4 linked regions of the Homo sapiens genome follow. The protein of the gene in region 1 purifies or fractionates together with the protein of each later gene. This does not show direct contact. Each region holds a gene or a part of one and is shown in the gene's direction. Other genes may lie near its edges.

Region 1 (4,748 bases):
ACACGGAGGCTCTCTGTTGTCTGTCTCTGAGATCTTTGTGTCTGGGAATGCCTAAAGATTTTATTTTTTTTTCTTTGTTTTTATTTTATTTTATTTTATTTTTTTGAGACAGAGTCTCACCCTGTTGCCCAGGCTGGAGTGCAATGGTGCGATCTTGGCTCACTGCAACCTCCACCTCCCAGTTCAAGTGATTCCCCTGCCTCAGCCTCGCGAGTAGCTAGGACTACAGGCGCATGTCACCAAGCCCGGCTAATTTTTGTATTTTTAGTAGAAACGGGGTTTCACCATGTTGGCCAGGATGATCCTCAATCTCCTGACCTCGTGATCCACCCGCCTTGGCCTCCCAAAGTGCGGGATTACAAGCGTGAACCACCCTGCCCAGCCAGAAACTAGATTTTCTTTATGCCTCCACCCCTTCTTATTCATTTACTTTACAATACCAAAATAACAAATTGCATAGGAGTGTGGGATGTGGTTTCTGCCTTCTAGAGAGAGATCAGAATTAAACTAGTACTATGAAATGTCCTTTTGAATGTTAGGTCAAGAAATCCATGTACAGAGTCGTGCACTTCATTGGCTGTAACTGTCAAACTTGCCTTGTATTAGAAGTTAAATCCCATCGTAAATACATCACGAGGCCAGCTGTGTGATTTCTGAGACCTAGATGAGAGTCCATTTACTTCAGCCTTTGATTCAGTAAATGTTAAGCAGCAGAAGACTTCGAATGGTTGAAATTCATTGTTACAGGATTTAACTCATAAACCAATGAGAGATTTTTTTTTTCTCTGCAATGGTTGCTAAGTCTATTCCATGTTAACACTGTGGAAATAAATATGAAGATGTGGACATTGCATCGGGGCTCTTTTCTGTGGAAGAGAAGGTGGTGGGATTGGGGTGAAGGGCTACACTGGAGGCAGGAGATAGGGCTGTGCTGTGTTGGAGCCGGGGCTGAGGGTAGACCCCCCAGAGATTTGACATCTGTGACACCTGTGAAATGGGTTCGGGTGCTCATGACTCCATAGCTGGCGGAGGAGCACAGCACAGCTGTTGCAGGGGCAGCTAAGGTTTCCTCTGAAAATCTGTCAGGAGCAAGGACTACTTTGGCATTAACCATCACTGTTTGATTTCTTGACAGGTATGTGAGATGGGGAGTGATTTGATTTTTTTTTTTTTTTTTAATAGAAAAGAGGAATAGTTGTTCCCCAAATGTTTCTTCCTCCACTGCCTTCCAGTACTTTCTTTACATGAAAGATTAGTGTAAAAGTACAAAATCAGCCCAGGAAACATTCAGCAGCCACTAGTTACTACATAGAATTTATAAAGTGGATGTTAAATGGAGAGAGAGTTGGCTCAGGTCCCCTGAAATCTTGTAGGATTAACTTCTCTGAGGAAAAGAAAAATCAGGTTTGCATTTTGTATTAATATTCTGCTTTTAGAAGTAATAGAAATACAAGTTGAAGATTGTCTTTACTTACAAAATTATATTTTAATTTTTTTTGAGACATAGTCTTGCTCTGTCACCCAGTCTGGAGTGCAGTGCTGTGATCTCGGCTCACTGTAACCACCATCTCCCAGTCTCTAGTGATTCTCATGGCTCAGCCTCCCTGGTTGCTCAGATTACAAGTGTATGCCACCACACCCAGCTAATTTTTGTATTTTTTGTAGAGACAGGGTTTCGCCATGTTGGCCAGGCTGGTCTCGAACTCCTGGCCTCAAGTGATCCGCCTACCTCGGCTTCCCAAAGTGCTGGGATTATAGGCGTGAGCCACCGTGCCCAACCACAAAATTATATGTATATATATTTAAACGTGTCAAACATTTTGCTTTCTTTCTCCATTTTAGGTAAAATCTCAGCCACAGTAATTGCTTTCTTCTGCTTTTTCTTTATAAAAACCTGCTTATGAAGGCCTTCTGATACAGATAGTTAAATCGCTGTAGTAGGAGGCTCAGGTTTTCTAAGGGATTGCAAATGTGCTGCATGGTTTTTCTATTCCTATGTCCTGGAAGCCTTTGTTTAAAGTGGGCTTTACAAATGTGTCCCTGAGGTGCGTGAGCAAGAGAACAATCTCAGCCCCAATACGGGGGCTGTGTTCTTGCCGTAAGAATCTGTAGCTGACTGGTGTGCTGAACCCGGGCACTCTTTTTCCTATTGTTTGCCATGGAAATTTCCACTTTGGACCGAGTAAGGTCAACTAGGTGTTTTAAAATTGTTTTTCTCCTATGTGATTGGGTGTGAAGAGGGAAAGTAGGAATACACTCAGAATTATTACTGGATTGCATAAAAGTGATAGAAGTGTAGTGGGGTTCACTTCCTCAATTGGTGCTTCCTAGATTTTTCTCTCCCATCTCTTCCTGCTTTGTTTCTTTAAAGAAAAGGCTGTTGTCTCTCTTTTTAAATATTTAAGTCTAGTGAGTTTATTTTGTACGCAATTGCTTTAATTTTAAGGGAAGTAAATCTGAAACTATCTTGAAGCCCAAAGGATTTTTAGTAAGTGGATTAACAGTGATGAGGTATTTGCGATTACTTTAAATGCCAAAATGCTTGAGAACTTTGCCAGGTTAAAAATTACTTAATATATTTTAGAATGTAGGTTAGAAAGTAGTAGGACAAGGAATAGCTTTATTACTCTTGAGAACACTTGGATAAATGAAAATATAGTTTGCTTCCGTGTTAAGTTGTGGTTGAGCTATGGAGTGACCCTGGAGCTGCCGCATCCCACAGGCCTGAGCTCAGCAAGGGTTCAATTCAAGAGAGATGACGTCTCCACTTGGATAATGGCAGACAGTGTGGGTAGCGGCCATGCACTAGGGGAATTCACCTCTGTCAAATTAATACTCTCCTGTCTACTGGATTCTTCTTGTGCTTCACCTGGATTAAAAAGCTGTACTGCCTCTTTTGAAACAGATAAAACCTTTCTATAAGTCTCAATTAATGAGCTTGCACAATCTTGTATATGTACAGGAAACCCCTCCTGTCTCCTAATGTGATTAGTACTGTAAAATATTCTATAAAACTGATTAAAAGGGGAGAGCAGTTTGATTCACAGGGTTTTATGTTTCTGTCATCTATTTTATATTCAGAAGCATTTCTGAAAACGTATTTGACTTCCGAATGTTCTGATGTTCTCCGTGAATTCACACACATCTTTTTTATCTGAACAATAAGGGTGTTTGCTAAGTATGGCACAAGAAGGAACTAGAATGACCTGGCAGTAACTAACACAATGGTGAACATCTAAGGGTTTTTTTTTTTTTTTTTTTGAGACAGGGCCTGGCTCTGTCGCCCAGGCTGGAGTGCAGAGGCAGGATCTAGGGTCACTGCAAACTCTGCCTCCTGTTCTCAAAGATCCTCCAGCCTCAGCCTTCCCAGTAGCTGGGACAACAGGCATACGCTACCACACCTGACTAATATTTGTATTGTTTGTAGAGGCAGGGTTTTGCCATGTTGCCCAGTCTCCTGAGCTCAAGCGATCTGCCCGCCTCAACCTCCCAAAGTGCTGGGATTACAGGCGTGAGCCACTGCACCCAGACCTTCATCTATGGATTTAACAGTTTCTGCCTAATGCCTATATTTGGTAGCTATTTATCATTTTTCATTTTGAAAGCAAAAGTGTTGCCATCTAATCACAATATTCATTTAGGCCTTTATTAATCTTTCCAGCCAAGGGAAGTTACTTTTGACAAGGAGTACTAACTCATTCTTCAGGCTTCCCTTGCTGGTGAGAAGGCGCTTTTCTTATATTGATTGCACTTCATTTAGAAGGAAATAGTTAAAAACTTGCTTACGGCCCATTTCCATTTGCTCTGTTCAGTATTTTTTTTTTTTTTTTTGAGGCAGAGTTTTGCTCTTGTTACCCAGGCTGGAGTGCAATGGCTCGATTTTGGCTCACTGCAACCTTCGCTTCCCAGGTTCAAGCAGTTCTGCCTCAGCCTCCTGAGTAGCTGGAATACAGGCATGCGCCACCACGCCCAGCTGATTTTGTATTTTTAGTAGAGACGGGGTTTCGCCATATTGGTCAGGCTGGTCTCGAACCCCTGACCTCAGGTGATCCACCTGCCTCGGCCTCCCAAAGTGCTGAGATTACAGGTGTAAGCCACCGCACCCGGCCCACTCTTCAATATTAAAACGAGTGGTATGACGCCTAGAACCAAAAATAGCATTCAGCTTTTCTTGCCAACTTGGAATTTACCTGTGTCGCTTGGACTGCTGTTACGCTTGTACCCACTCAACCCTTTCCGCAAGTACAGGGCTCCGTAGCTTTTCCTCACAGGATGCTGAGCTACTGACACTAGCTTCACGAGCCTGCCTGCCATACTGCTGCAAAATGGGTGGTGATCCTGTAGAGAGAAACCAGGGCTGAAGCTCCTCTTGGCCATAAATGTGTCCTCCACCTAAGGATTGAAGTATTCAGCGAAGAGCTTTTGCTTCACTTATTTCATTCCAGAAGAATCCTTTCCATCCACTTAGGGTAGTAAAATATAGCCCATAGATTTAAAAAAAAAAAAAAAAAAAAAAAAGACCCATGCCCAGAGAAAGTGTTTTAGCTCATGCCTGTAATCCCAGCACTTTGGGAAACGAAGGCGGGAGGATCACTTGAGCTCAGGAATTTGAGGCCAGCCTGGGAAACAATGAGACCTGGTCTGTACAAAAAAAAAAAAAAAAAAAATTTAAATAAGCCAGGCATGGTGGCACATCCCTGTAGTCCCAGCTACTTGGGAGGCTGAGGTGGGAGGATGGCTTGAGCCCA
Region 2 (3,722 bases), on another chromosome or scaffold:
CGTGAGGAAGAACCAGGCTTGGGGGACTCAGGCATTCAGTCAACACCAGGCTCGGGCCATGCCCCTCGTACTAGTTCCTCCTCAGATGATTCAAAGAGATCACCTTTGGGCAAGACTCCACTGGGACGCCCAGCTGTCCCCCGTTTTGGCAAGCCAGATGGGCTAAGGGGCCGGGGAGTAGGGTCCCCTGAACCAGGCCCAACAGCCCCATACCTGGGCCGATCGATGTCTTACAGCAGCCAAAAAGCCCAACCTGGTGTCTCTGAGACAGAAGAAGTGGCCTTGCAGCCATTACTGACACCCAAGTAAGTATTAGTACTATCCTGACCCTTAGCCAATTTCAAATTAGCATACTGCTCTGCAAAAGCTATCAGGGCTTCTGTTGTACATCCTAATGTAGGTGGACCCAGGGGTATCCTGGTAGCTCTTTATTTTCACTTTGACTCTACCTGCCTTCATGGGCAATTCCTGTTAAGAGACTGAAGATTAATACTTTTTCCATAATGCTATCTTCCTAAAAGTATTTGCTTGGGAGTAAGTACATGTGATAGCTGTTACTAGAGAGTAGTAGTACATAGGAGAGATTGGGAATCAGGCTTATTTTAAGCAGGGCAATAAAGGGGAATGTTTGGGTAAGAAAGTATGGATATAGAAAAGAACATCATTTTTTTCTCTGAACCTTTGAAACTGTCTCCCTTTCCAATGTTTTCTGTCCCATTTCCTGACACCTACGTCTTGTCTCTTCTTTCCAGAGATGAAGTACAGCTGAAGACCACCTACAGCAAATCCAACGGGCAGCCCAAGAGCTTAGGCTCAGCCTCCCCTGGCCCAGGCCAGCCACCTCTCAGTAGCCCCACGAGGGGAGGAGTCAAGAAGGTGTCAGGGGTTGGTGGTACCACCTATGAGATTTCGGTGTGAGCCTTCGGCACCTCCCCTCCCCAACGCCTCTGCGCCTACACCAAAGGGCCCCAGGTGGCCACCTTCCTTCCCTCAAGGGGCTCCCCTCCCGTGCATGGACATTTTTTAAACCACCGATTCCAAGAGGATGAGGAGTGTTTTCTAAAATGCAGTAGGCTTGGGGAGTCGGAGAGTTGGGGCCCTGAGACTGGGGTAGCAACCCCCCCTTTTATCTTTTAAGACCTTCCCTTCCTTGATCCCTGGACCAGACTCAGTGGACATTTGTGCAATTGCTCGCCCTGGAGGGAACCAGATCATTTTTAAACCAGAAATAATTTTTTTTATTATTGTTACGGATTCTATTTTTTTCCTCTTCTGCGTTACCAGGTGTGTGTGTACATATAATATATATATATATATATTATAAATATCAAAGAAATTATATATCTATCCTGGGATGGGAAAATGAGGGAGGGATACATATACGGAGGGGGATCTTACTCTTCCCATTCCTCAGACCAGCAGGAAAAGAGGGGAGACGTCAGTCTTTTTCCTGTGGTTCCCTCTCATTTGTCCCAGTTACTAACTACGGAAATAGCATCCTCTGCTGGTGCTAAGTGTGATTAGGAAGAAGCCTGGGGAGAGGTGAGTCTGGAATTTTGGTCACAAGAGGGAAGGACTTGGAGAGGAGAATTAGTTTTCTAGGCTCATTGGCATTTAGTTTCCCTAGGAAAGGGGTCAAAACTTCAAGACACTGGTGGTGGTGGGAGATCAGGAAAATAACTTGGCCTAGCTCAAACAATATTGGATAATCCCCTCCTTGGGGGAGAGGGATTAGAGTGTGCTCCTACTGGCCCCTTGGAGCCTCCCCTAGCTTACACAGTTAACTTGATTTTAAAATCCAAGGCCAGGAGAGAAGAATCCAAAAAGCAATATTTTTCATCACATGCCAAAAACGGGGGATAGAGAGAAGGAGTGGCAGGCCTAGGCCCCTCCGATTGTCCCTTGGGGGTTACCCCTCAGCCCACCTCACTATGGTGCTGGGTAGAGGGGATACCTGGGTTCTAACCTCTAAATAGGGGAGATCCCAGCCTCCACAAAGAGGCCCTTTTATTTTTTATTCTGATTAGCCATTTTAAACCAACGAGGAATAAAAAGAAATCCTGATCTAACCAGCGCCCCCTGACTTGTGTTATTTTGTCTGGTTGAGACAGGGTGAACGATCTCTGGTGGGAAGTTATCAGTGACAACCTCATAAACTTCTCTGGTCCCAGCCCATCTTTAGGCAAGACTATAATGAAATTAGCCACTTAACAACTAAAAAAATAAAAAAGAGACCCAGTGCGGTGGCTTATACCTGTAATCCCAGCACTGAGGGAGGCTGAGGCAAGAGGATCACTTGAGCCCAGGAGTTCCAGACCAACCTGGGCAACATAGAGACTCCATTTCTAAAAACAACAGGTCCTGTTTTTATTTGGGTGATTTAATTCAAAAATTCCTGAAAAAAGGTCTCTTGAAATCACCAAAACTGCTTGTTATTTGAAAGCTTAGAGAACTCTTAAAAGTTGTTTCTTTCAAGAGACAGGGCCTCATTCTGGTTGCCCAGGCTGGAGGGCAGTGGCACAATCAGATCACTATATCCTCAAATTCCTGGGCTCAAGGGATCTTCCCACCTCAGCCTTCTGTGAAGCTAGGACTTACAGTTGCATGCCACCATGCTTAGCTAATTTTTTTTTTTTTGGTAGAGATAGACTCTCAACCAATTTTGCCCAGACTGATCTCGAACTTCTGGCCTTGAGCAATCCTGCCTTGGCCTCCCAAAGCATTGGGATTACAGGCATGAGCCACCATGCCCAGCTACAGTTGTTTTTTAATACAGGATTTAGTCTCTGGAAAGTAAAGCTAATTTTGGAAACAGCCAAAGGTGACATAGTAACAGGTATGAAAGCCTGTTGAAGGCAGGTTAACTAGATATCGGTGTCAGTTCAATTAGATATATTGCATTTTATTGGACAAAAGCTGTGCTCTAATTTTAAATAGGTATCCTTAGACACTAAATCTCAAGCAGTTGACCAGAGCCCTTTAATTACTCAAAATTTAAGAATATAAGCTCTTAGCCGGGCGTGGTGGCTCACGCCTGTAGTCCCAGCACTTTGGGAGGCCGAAGCGGGCTGATCACAATGTCAGGAGATCGAGACCATCCTGGCTAACACAGTGAAACCCCATCTCTACTAAAAATAACAAAAAACTAGCCTGGCGTGGTGCGGGCGCCTGTAGTCCCAGCTACTTGGGAGGCTGAGGCAGGAGAACGGCGTGAACCTGGGAGGCGGAGCTTGCAGTGAGCCGAGATCACGCCACTGCACTCCAGCCTGGGTGACAGAGCAAGACTCCGTCTCAGGAAAAAAAAAAAAAAAAAAAAAAAAAAAAATATATATATATATATATACTCTTATTTGGGTGCAGTAGCTCACACCTGTAATCCCAGCACCTTGGGAGGCTAAGGCAGGTGGATCACCTGAGGTCAGGAGTTCAAGACCAGCTTGGCCAAAATGGTGAAACCCCGTCTGTACTAAAAATGCAAAAATTAGCTGGGCGTTGGTTATGGGTGCCTGTAATCCTGGCTATTTGGGAAGCTGAGGTGGGAGAATCACCTGAACCCAGGAGGTGCAGGTTGCAGTGAGCTGAGATTGCACTACTACACTCCAACATGGGCGACAGAGCAAGACTCTTTCTCCAAAATTTAAAAAAAAAAAAAAAAAAAAAATATATATATATATATACAAAAATTAGCCAGGTGTGGTGACGCACACTTGTAGTCCCAGCTA
Region 3 (4,653 bases), on another chromosome or scaffold:
TCACAGTAACTCTGGGGAAAACCACGGGATTATTAGTTCCAGAATTTCTTACAGTGGAAATACATAGTGACTTGAAGTGATTTGAATTCCCCAGAGATTGACTACCGTGAAATCTGATGGCCCAAGAAAAGATGAATGAAAGATTGTTTTTAGGAACATTAGAGAGCAGGACTAAAACGGCTGCAGACTGATGTTGAGTCAGACAGACTTGGAGAAAGCTGTGTGGGACTGTTAGTTGGAGCCTTGGGTTTCCTATACCTACATGTAAATCTGAACAAAAATTCTGGTGGCAGAGACACACTTTGAGAAAAAAGAGCTTGCCTGAGAACACATGTCACACTGAGACCCTAATCAGGGCAGTTCACACTGCCTGCTCCATGGTTGGCTGGTCAGATTGGTTGGGCTTTGGTCCTCAGATGGGCGTAGCGGGAGGAACACTGACTAGTCTTGACAATTGACTGAGGCTTCCATTCGTGAGAATCATGGTTTTGGGCTGCAACAACACTTAGACGTCATTTATTTTCTATTTATTTATTTTTTTGAGATGGACTCTCAGTCTGTCGCCCAGGCTGGAGTGTAGTGGCGCGATCTCGGCTCACTGCAACCTCCGCCTTACAGGTTGAAGCGATTCTCCTGCCTCAGCCTCCCGAGTAGCTGGGACTACAGGCGTGTGCCATCACACCCAGCTAATTTTTTATTTTTAGTAGAGATGGAGTTTCACCATGTTGGCCAGGCTGGTCTCAAACTCCTGACCTCTAGTGATCCGCCCGTCTTGGCCTCCCAAAGTGTTGAAATTACAGGCATGAGCCACCACGCCCAGCGCATTTATTCTTACAGAAAAATGGAGGCCATGCAGAAGAATGGAACCAGAAGGAGCAGAGAAATCTCAGCCCCGGTGATTCCATAGGATTGTGATGTTCCAGACCACAGTTTTAAGTGCTATTTGTTTCAAGAGTGACATCACAGCTGGATTTTACTTAGAATTCAGAATAAGTGGTTAACGTCTGGAATTTTATTTTTGGTAGTAGTATGTGTCAGTTTTTTGTCACTGTATAGTAGTTGAGGAGTTCTTTTTTGTTGACATAGAGATACACAGGGTTTGTATTGCCTTTGGACAATGGACAGGTCTCATCTGTCTCTTTTGTCTGCAAGTGAGACCCTGCCCCTTCTGAGTAAACAACACTCTGTGAATGACTGTCCCTTTTCACTGTGGACTTCTTGTTATTACACCCTTAGATGGACTCAGCAGCTATGAGATCCTCCCATCATAGGTATGGTATTTTGTAACAAAAGTACAGAAACACCTCCAAGGTGCAGTGAATGATCTCAAGGAGAGAAATGGAGTATTATAGGATCATAGAGAGGCCTCGAGGTCTAACCAGCTGCTCTGCGGAAGTCAGGGTGATGGTGGTTTCAGTGTTGGGGAGGTTACAGAGTTAGTGTTGATATGCAAATTTTCTTCCTCCAAATTTGGAGTATGTTATATATGTTTTAATGTATATAACTGTGAATATGAATATAACATTAGAACATATATAACATAATTTCTGCTGGTGGAGTAGAGATCATAAATTTGAGGTTTGCAGTTTGCTTTCTAAAACATCTTTTAAGTTTATTCTTTTCTGGCACACAGGACGTTGTAGGGTAACTTTGCTGTGGAGTCTCACATTTTATATAGAATCATTTTTTCAACATAGTGTGGATAATCACATACGCCTTGAAGGATCAATATATGTTAACAGATGATTGGATCTTTTTGATTTTGCACTTAATTTCTTTACAAATTCTGCATTATAACCAGACAGCTCTATTGAGGGTTTGCAGATTTTTTCTGTAAAGGACCAGTTAGTAAATATTTTAGGCATTGGAGGCTAAATGGTCTCTGCAAGGACTCATCTCTGCTTTTGTAGTGTGAAAGCAGCCATAGCCAATCTGTAAACAAATGAAGGTGGCTGTCTTCCAATAGGACTTTACTTATAAAAGCAGACAGAGAGTTGGATTTGGCCTGTGGGTTGTAGTTTGTCAATGCCTGCTCTAATCTGTTTTGTCTTTGTTTATCTTTTTGAGATAGAGTCCCAGGCTAGAGTGCAGTGGTGTAATCTGGAGTGCAGTGGTGTAATCCCAGGCTAGAGTGCAGTGGTTTTTGTTTATTTTTTTGAGATAGAGTCCCAGGCTGGAGTGCAGTATAGCTCACTGCAGCCTTGACTGACCTCCCTGGCTGAAACGATTCTCTCACCTCAGCCTCCCGAGTAGCTGGGACTGTAGGCACATGCTACTACACCCAGGTAATTTTTTTTTTTTTTTTCTTGTAGAGACAAGATCTTCCGATGTTGCCCAGGCTGGTCTTGAACTCCTGGGCTCAAGCAGTCCTCCCACCTTGTTTTCCCAAAGTGCTGAGATAACAGGTGTGAACTACCATGCCTGGCCTCTAATCTGTTTTTTTATTTTAACTTGTAATTGGACTATGAATTCAAAGAGTATATATCAGCATGTGCCCAGATATTAAACATTAGAACTGACACTTGTGTACCCACTAACCAGCTTAGGAAATAGAAGGTTGCCATACCTTTGGCTCCCTGTGTCCTCGTCTCACCACTTCCCTCTTTCTGACCTCCCCAAGGCAAATACCTTGTATGTATCATTTTTCTGCTTTACTTTATGGTGTTGCAAAGTATAAATGTATCCTTATATAATGTGACTTCATTTTTGCATTCCTTTAGACAATGTAAATGGAGTCACTTTGTTCTTTTTTTGCCCCCACTCAACATTGTTTCTGTGATCCTTTTATTCAGATGTTTGAGTACTTACCATGTCTTAAACACTGTTCTACTGCTGGGCATGTTAACAGTAAGCAAAGCAGATGAAAAGTCCTTGTTTTCATGGAGCTTACATTTTGGTAGGGGAAAGACAGTTAACAGATAAATGAAAGATACAGTAGCCATATGGTAATACAAACAGGGAGAAAAGTAAACCAGGAGAGGTGGGGTGTGGGGGAGTGCTTGTCTGCAGATTGAAATACAGCAGTCAACAGAAGGAGTGGAGGGACCCAGCCACAAGGCTGTGGGTGGCAGTGGGGTAGGGGCAGCATTATAGGCGGAGGGTCAGCAGGACAAGGTGCTAAGAAGGAGGCATGTCTGCTGTGTTGGAGGGGCAGCGGAGGCCAGTGTGGCTGGAGTGAGGAGCCTGAGGGAGAGTGGGAGGAGGGTAGGCCAGATGGATGGGGGAGATGGGGGGAGGGCGTAGGTCACACTGGCCATTGTTAAGATTTTGTCTTTTTCTCTGAGTGAGATGGGTAAGTCATTTGGTGTTTTGAGCAGAGGTGTCACATGATGTGGTTTCTAAAGGTCCCACTGTCCTGTGCTGCTGGAGGGAGGTTGGACGCTCTGGCAGTGATCCAGGAGAGCAGTAATGGCAGCTGGGACTGAAGGGGAGCAGGGGTGGGAGTGAGAAGAGGTTGGCTGCTGGATCCTTCTTGAAAAGGAAGAGCAGACAGGATTTGCTGGCAGATTGGAGTGGGTGTGAGAGAGGAGTAAAGGATGATACCAGGGATTTTTGTAGCTGGTGGGCGTTGCCATGTATAAGGAAAGGGAAGACTTGGGAAGAACAGCGTGTGGAAGTAAGATCAGGAGTTGGGTTTTGTGCATGTTCAGTTTCTGAAGCTTTTGGAGAGCAGATTGGAGATATGCTGGATTGGGGTGTTCACTGCTCAAGGGAGAGATCTAGGCTGCAGATAGAAATAGGAGTCTTTGGGCCGGGCGCGGTGGCTCACTCCTGTAATCCCAGCACTTTGGGAGGCTGAGACGGGCGGATCACAAGGTCAGGAGATGAGACCATCCTGGCTAACATGGTGAAACCCCGTCTCTACTAAAAAAAATACAAAAAAATTAGCCGGCTTAGTGGTGGGTGCCTGTAGTTCCAGCTACTCTGGAAGCTGAGGCAGGAGAGTGGCATGAACCCGGGAGGTGGAGTTTGCAGTGAGCTGAGATCGCGCCCTGCACTCCAGCCTGGGTGACAGAGCGAGATTCTGTCTCAAAAAAAAAAAAAAAAAAGAAAAAGAAATAGGAGTCTTCAATATTTAGGTGGCATTTAACAGTCCCGAGGTTGAGTGAGGCACTGAAGGAATGAGGCTCTACGGCAGCCTAGAAGGTGGAAGGAGCAGCTTTGAGGCCTTAGGAAAGTGTTGTCACGGAGGATGGAGCGGGGACCTCTGCCAGTGCTGCTGCCGTGAGGTCACCTGAGATAAGGACCAAGACTCGTCTCATGGCTCTGGCAGCGTGGAATTCATCGACGATCTTGAGAGCTGTTCCCACATGGTGGTGCAGGAAAAGCCTGGAAGGGAGCATTCACAAGGATTGAGAGAAGAGAAAGGCAAGTAGAGCTCCGTCATGGGATTTGCCACAGTGATGAAGGGATATTTGGGATCCTGAGGTGTTGAGGTGGGAGAAACCACACCATTTTTGCAGTGTTGGTGAAGTAATTCTCCAGAGGATGAATGACATGATGAATCAGAAGAGGTGACCCTTGCTGGAGCCACATTCTTGGGAAGGCAGCAGGAAGTGGGTGGGTGCCCATGTGGAGAGTTGGCATCCATGGGCTCCTCCCTGGTAGGAGGAGGGAGAGCAGACTAGGGGAGATGGGATAGTGGGAGCATGT
Region 4 (4,653 bases), on another chromosome or scaffold:
TCATTTTGGTGAGTTATTTGTCTTATAAACTCTGGGTGCTTCTGAGACACCAGTGCCTGTTTTTGGAATGATTTCATAAAACTTTCCAAGTTGAAGAGAGCCTGAGGGGAGGGTGAGGTTCAAATACGAGTTGTGAGGGTGGTAAGAGATGATGACAGCTACCATCTATTGAGTGTTTATCATCCGAAAGGCAGGGCTGACCACATGGCCTGCCACCCATGCAGTGCCACGGGGTCCACACTTGGTTTGATGCTGTGCTGTCACCATCTTGAAAATCTTAATTCTTTTTGAACTGGGGACCTTACATTTTCATTTTGCACTGGGTTTCACAAATTACGTAGCTGGTCCTGCTGAAAGACATTGTGTCTAGTGCTTTACAAATATTATGCCATTTAACCCTTGTAATGACCCAGTGAAATGAGCCATTTTTATTACTTTTATTTTACATATAAGAAAAATGAGGCTTCGTGAGTTTAAGCCACTTGGCTCAGTTCCCACAGCTATTTAGTGATAGAACCAGGATTCAAACCCATGTTTGCCTGCCTGCAAGTACTTGCCTATCAGGCTGTCTGAGTGAAGAATCCTGACTTAAAGAGAAGGAACTGAATAAGAGGTTGGGAGAGAGTGATTGGAATATAGGAACTGCTGAGCCTGAAAGCAGCTAATGTTTAAATGAGGCTGACAGTGGCAGCCACCAAACCTTCCTAGTGAGATCACTTTTGTTGCTCTTACTAGGGATTTAGTTACTACATGCATGATTGCTAATGCTCTGTTTTAGCAAACCTGTCACATACTTGATTTAAACAATTTAGAATGTTCAAGTTACCCAAGGCTGAGATTATGATGTTTCTCAGGAGCCTTCTGTTAACCGTTAGGAGCAATGTTTTTTTTCATTTGGTTAGTTATGAAGACATCTTGGTCTACAAGGACAAAGGCAGACAGGTTCAGAGTCTACAAAATAATGAAGCATATGGATAGGGCAAAGATGGACTGATCATTAGATCCTGAATTGCTAAAGCTCTGGGCTTCCTCTTGAAGCTTAAAAAATTGTTTCCATACAGATGATGAAATGTTATTTTAATTCAGTGAGTACTGATTTTAGGAAAGCTGTTGCTTCAAGATGGAATACAGGCTAAAATTGGTTCAGAAAAGATGGCAAATCTAGAAATCAGGAGAATATCTCTTGGGGTTCGGTACCACCGTGAGAAGAAACCTTGCCTCTTTCCCCAGACCTGCCTGTATGTTGGACATTTCTGCCATTTGTATTGTATTCCTATAAAATTCTCTGAAAATTACTTTCTGGGAATTGTCTGTGCTTTTGTAATTTCTATTTTATTTTATTTTATTTTATTTTATTTTTGAGATGGGTCTTGTTCTGACACCCAGACTAGAGTGCAGTTGCTCAATCATGGCTCACTGCAGGCTTAACCTTCCAGGCTCAAGTGATCCTCCCACCTCAGCCTCCAGAGTAGCTGGGAGTATCAGTGTGTGCCACCATGCCTGGCTAATTTTTTTCTTCTTTTTTTTTGGTAGAAACGGGATCTCAGTATGTTGCCCAGGCTGGTCTCCAACTCCTGGGTTTAAGGGACCCTCTTGCCTTGGCCTCCCAAAGTGCTGGGATTACAGGTGTGAGCCACTGTGCTCAGCCCCCTTTTGCAATTTAAAGAGCAAAATAATCTATAAATTTTAAAATGTATTTTATATATGTATAAACTGTATCTGGAAGGATGCTCAAGAAGTGGATAATTTTTGGGAAAGCAGCTTGGGGAAGTGGAAGTCAAGAGATGAAGGGAAGCATGTCTACACACTATACCTGTTGGTACTATTCAGATTTTTACCTCGTCACTATGTCTAGAAAATGGAAGAAATACAACTTGTAGGCACCATGTAAAACTGGACTAGAGGTAATTTTCAACCAAGTGTTCTTGGGGGAAAAAGGGAGCTTCAGTACTATATAGAAACTCAACACCACTCAAGGTCAGTGGAGGCGTTGGATGAAGAACAGGGGAAGTGGGAAGGCCCCATGGAAAGAGGCTTTAGGGGGAGAGGTTGGCAGGTGGTTTGCCCATGATAAACATCAAGATCTTGATAATGTTCTCCTTTCTTCTATCTCAGTTTAGCCATCTGGAAAATAAAACAATTTTTGCAATTTTCGCCATGATTATATCCTTTTAAAAAAGTGTATCATAAAAACTAAGTCTTTGTGAAAGTAACAACAGAAGTTCTGCTTGTTTAAAATGCAGAATTCCTATAAAGCCAAGTTATTTGTAAAATCATTTGGTGGTTATGCTAATACAGTTTTATATCTGGTTGGTTCTTCAAGTGAAACCACTGGTCCCAGACAGTGGTAGGTAGGGAGTTGGGGGAATATTCGACCTGCCTGGTGTCCAGATGGAAAGGCCATCTGGCTTCCATGTCTTACTGAGTGCTGAAAAGGAGTTGGCTGATCTCACAGACTGTGTGGTTTCCTGTTCCTCCCGCCTGGCCCGGAGAGTGATATGATTTCAATGCGATATTGAAGCTTTTGGTTTGATGTTCCACTTTGGAGTTAACTCCTAGGGTTGGCCCCAGGCCAGGTTCTGAAGGGGCACCCGGGTCCTCATTGGCTGAGAATGTTATTACTTATGGTCACATGACCTCCACAAGCTGAATAAATGTAGTGAGTTCTAACGGGAGACAGAATTGGGAAGTAAGTATAATTTTTCCAGACCCTTGTGGCACCTTTCAACATTCTCGCCCCTTTTGTGTTCCCCTCCTTTCTTAGACATCAAGTGTTCACTGTAATGTTCTCTTTCCAATTTCATCCCTTCAAATTTTGCTGTCAGGAAAGATTTGATAAGCTTTCACTAGAAATTTTAGTGTTAGTAAGATTTAACATGTTAACCCTAAATGGGCATTTATATTTAACAATAATTACTTCAGGTCAAAAGGGTGAATCTCCACTTGGAGAACCTAGGGCGATAGCCAGGTAGTAGTGGGCGAATATTTGGGGAATGGGAGAGGAACCCTCACTGCCCTCCATTATTTCATAATGTGGCTCTTATTCATAAGGCAGCCTTGTTTATGTGTTGCTAATTTGTCTATGATCTAGAGGATTTCCCTTGGCTTAGCAAAAAATCTTTGACGGATTATTTTACTGTCTCTGAAATTGTTCTCATGATAGTAACATTGGTTGGGAGGTGGTAGACATAGGCACAGTCCTGAAAGATGAGAGGGCAGTACAGAGTTTTATATTTGCCCTCCTTCTCGAATGATCCCTGAGTTACAGTGTTCATGGGAAACAGGGGTCTCTGATGTGACATTGCTTTTGCAGGAGTTATAAGATATAGCATCTAGATTAATAATTGAATTAATTACAGTGCTTGCAGCTAGAAGTAACTGAAAATGGATTCAGATCGGCTCATACAGTAAGTAAATTATCTCATGTTGCAAGAGGTTGTGAAATAGAGCCCCTGGCCGGGCGCGGTGGCTGACGCCTGTAATCCCAGCACTTTGGGGGGCCAAGGCAGGTGGATCACAAGGTCAGGAGTTCAAGAGCAGCCTGGCCGAGATGGTGAAACCCTGTCTCTACTAAAAATACAAAAATTAGCTGGGCGTGGTGGCGGGCGCCTGTAATCCCAGCTACTCGGGAGGCTGAGGCAGGAGAATCCCTTGAACCTGGGGGGTGGAGGTTGCAGTGAGCCAAGATCATGCCACTGCACTCCAGCCTTGGTGACAGAGTGAGATTCTGTCTCAAAAAAAAAAAAAAAAAAAGAAAGAAAAGAAAAAAAAAGAAATAGAGCTCCTTGTTGGCTGATTCAGCAGTTCCTCAATGGACCTTGGTTCTGCCCATGTGCAGCTTTCATCCTCAGGTTGGATGTGTGATGGACATAGGAGTTACAGGGGTTACATTCAAAATGACAACATCCAGAGGAAGAAGAGAAGTTGTCTCTTTCTTGTGTCCCTTTTTTAGAATGGAAGAAACTTTTCTTACTAGCCCACTAGCTGATTTTTCTTAAAGCTTTATTGGTAAGGATTCGGTCATATGACCATTCTTAAGCCAATGGCTGGAAAGGAGAATGGGATTTATATTATCAGCTTAGATTAATCATATGGGGATGGAGACTCAACCAGCATGACCATTGGGATCATTAGTAAAATAGTCTGAGTTAACAATTCTTTCCTTAGTCAAAAGGTATGTTTCTTTTCTCATGAACATGGGCTAGCAACTAGAAAATTTAAAATTCACAGTAATTTGCCCTGGGCGCAAAACAGTAAACCCAAGTACTGTGCCACTCGCAGAGTTCTTTTGTTTTTTGTTTTTAAATAGAGACAGGGTCTCCTTATGTTGCCTAGGCTGGTCTTGAACCCCTGGGCTCAAGGGATCCTCTGCCTCGGCCTCCCACAGTGCTAGGATTACAGGCATGAGCTATCACGTCCGGCCCAGCAAAGTTCTAAGAATATTATTTAGCTGTGCTACCAATGCCCAGTGAAAGAAGACTATAGATGTAGAAATAGCCTCTTGAAAGTGCAGGGAAAGGCTAGGGAGGGGTGGGAGCCAGGAGGAGATTATGGCTATGTCTTGACTCACTAACTAGGAGATGTAGAATTAACTGTATTATCTGGACTCTTGGCGTCAGAGTAGAATACCAGGGCTGGAGGTAGCTAGCTGAG

Evidence for each region.
Region 2: the proteins of GAPVD1 (region 1) and ZDHHC5 purify together in Homo sapiens (co-immunoprecipitation; one large-scale study listed by IntAct). This does not show direct contact.
Region 3: the proteins of GAPVD1 (region 1) and PPP6R3 fractionate together in Homo sapiens (co-fractionation; one large-scale study listed by BioGRID). This does not show direct contact.
Region 4: the proteins of GAPVD1 (region 1) and CREB3L2 purify together in Homo sapiens (co-immunoprecipitation; one large-scale study listed by IntAct). This does not show direct contact.

What each region holds. Positions count from the first base shown.
Region 1 is NC_000009.12:125,364,159-125,368,906, forward strand, and holds the end of GAPVD1 (GTPase-activating protein and VPS9 domain-containing protein 1), read left to right. Parts: 3' UTR 1-3,049; downstream 3,050-4,748. UniProt on the Homo sapiens protein: Acts both as a GTPase-activating protein (GAP) and a guanine nucleotide exchange factor (GEF), and participates in various processes such as endocytosis, insulin receptor internalization or LC2A4/GLUT4 trafficking.
Region 2 is NC_000011.10:57,699,114-57,702,835, forward strand, and holds the end of ZDHHC5 (palmitoyltransferase ZDHHC5), read left to right. Parts: coding exon 1-305; intron 306-752; coding exon 753-918; 3' UTR 919-2,069; downstream 2,070-3,722. UniProt on the Homo sapiens protein: Palmitoyltransferase that catalyzes the addition of palmitate onto various protein substrates such as CTNND2, CD36, GSDMD, NLRP3, NOD1, NOD2, STAT3 and S1PR1 thus plays a role in various biological processes including cell adhesion, inflammation, fatty acid uptake, bacterial sensing or cardiac functions.
Region 3 is NC_000011.10:68,467,252-68,471,904, forward strand, and holds part of PPP6R3 (serine/threonine-protein phosphatase 6 regulatory subunit 3), read left to right. Parts: intron 1-4,653.
Region 4 is NC_000007.14:137,994,434-137,999,086, reverse strand, and holds part of CREB3L2 (cyclic AMP-responsive element-binding protein 3-like protein 2), read left to right. Parts: intron 1-4,653. UniProt on the Homo sapiens protein: Transcription factor involved in unfolded protein response (UPR).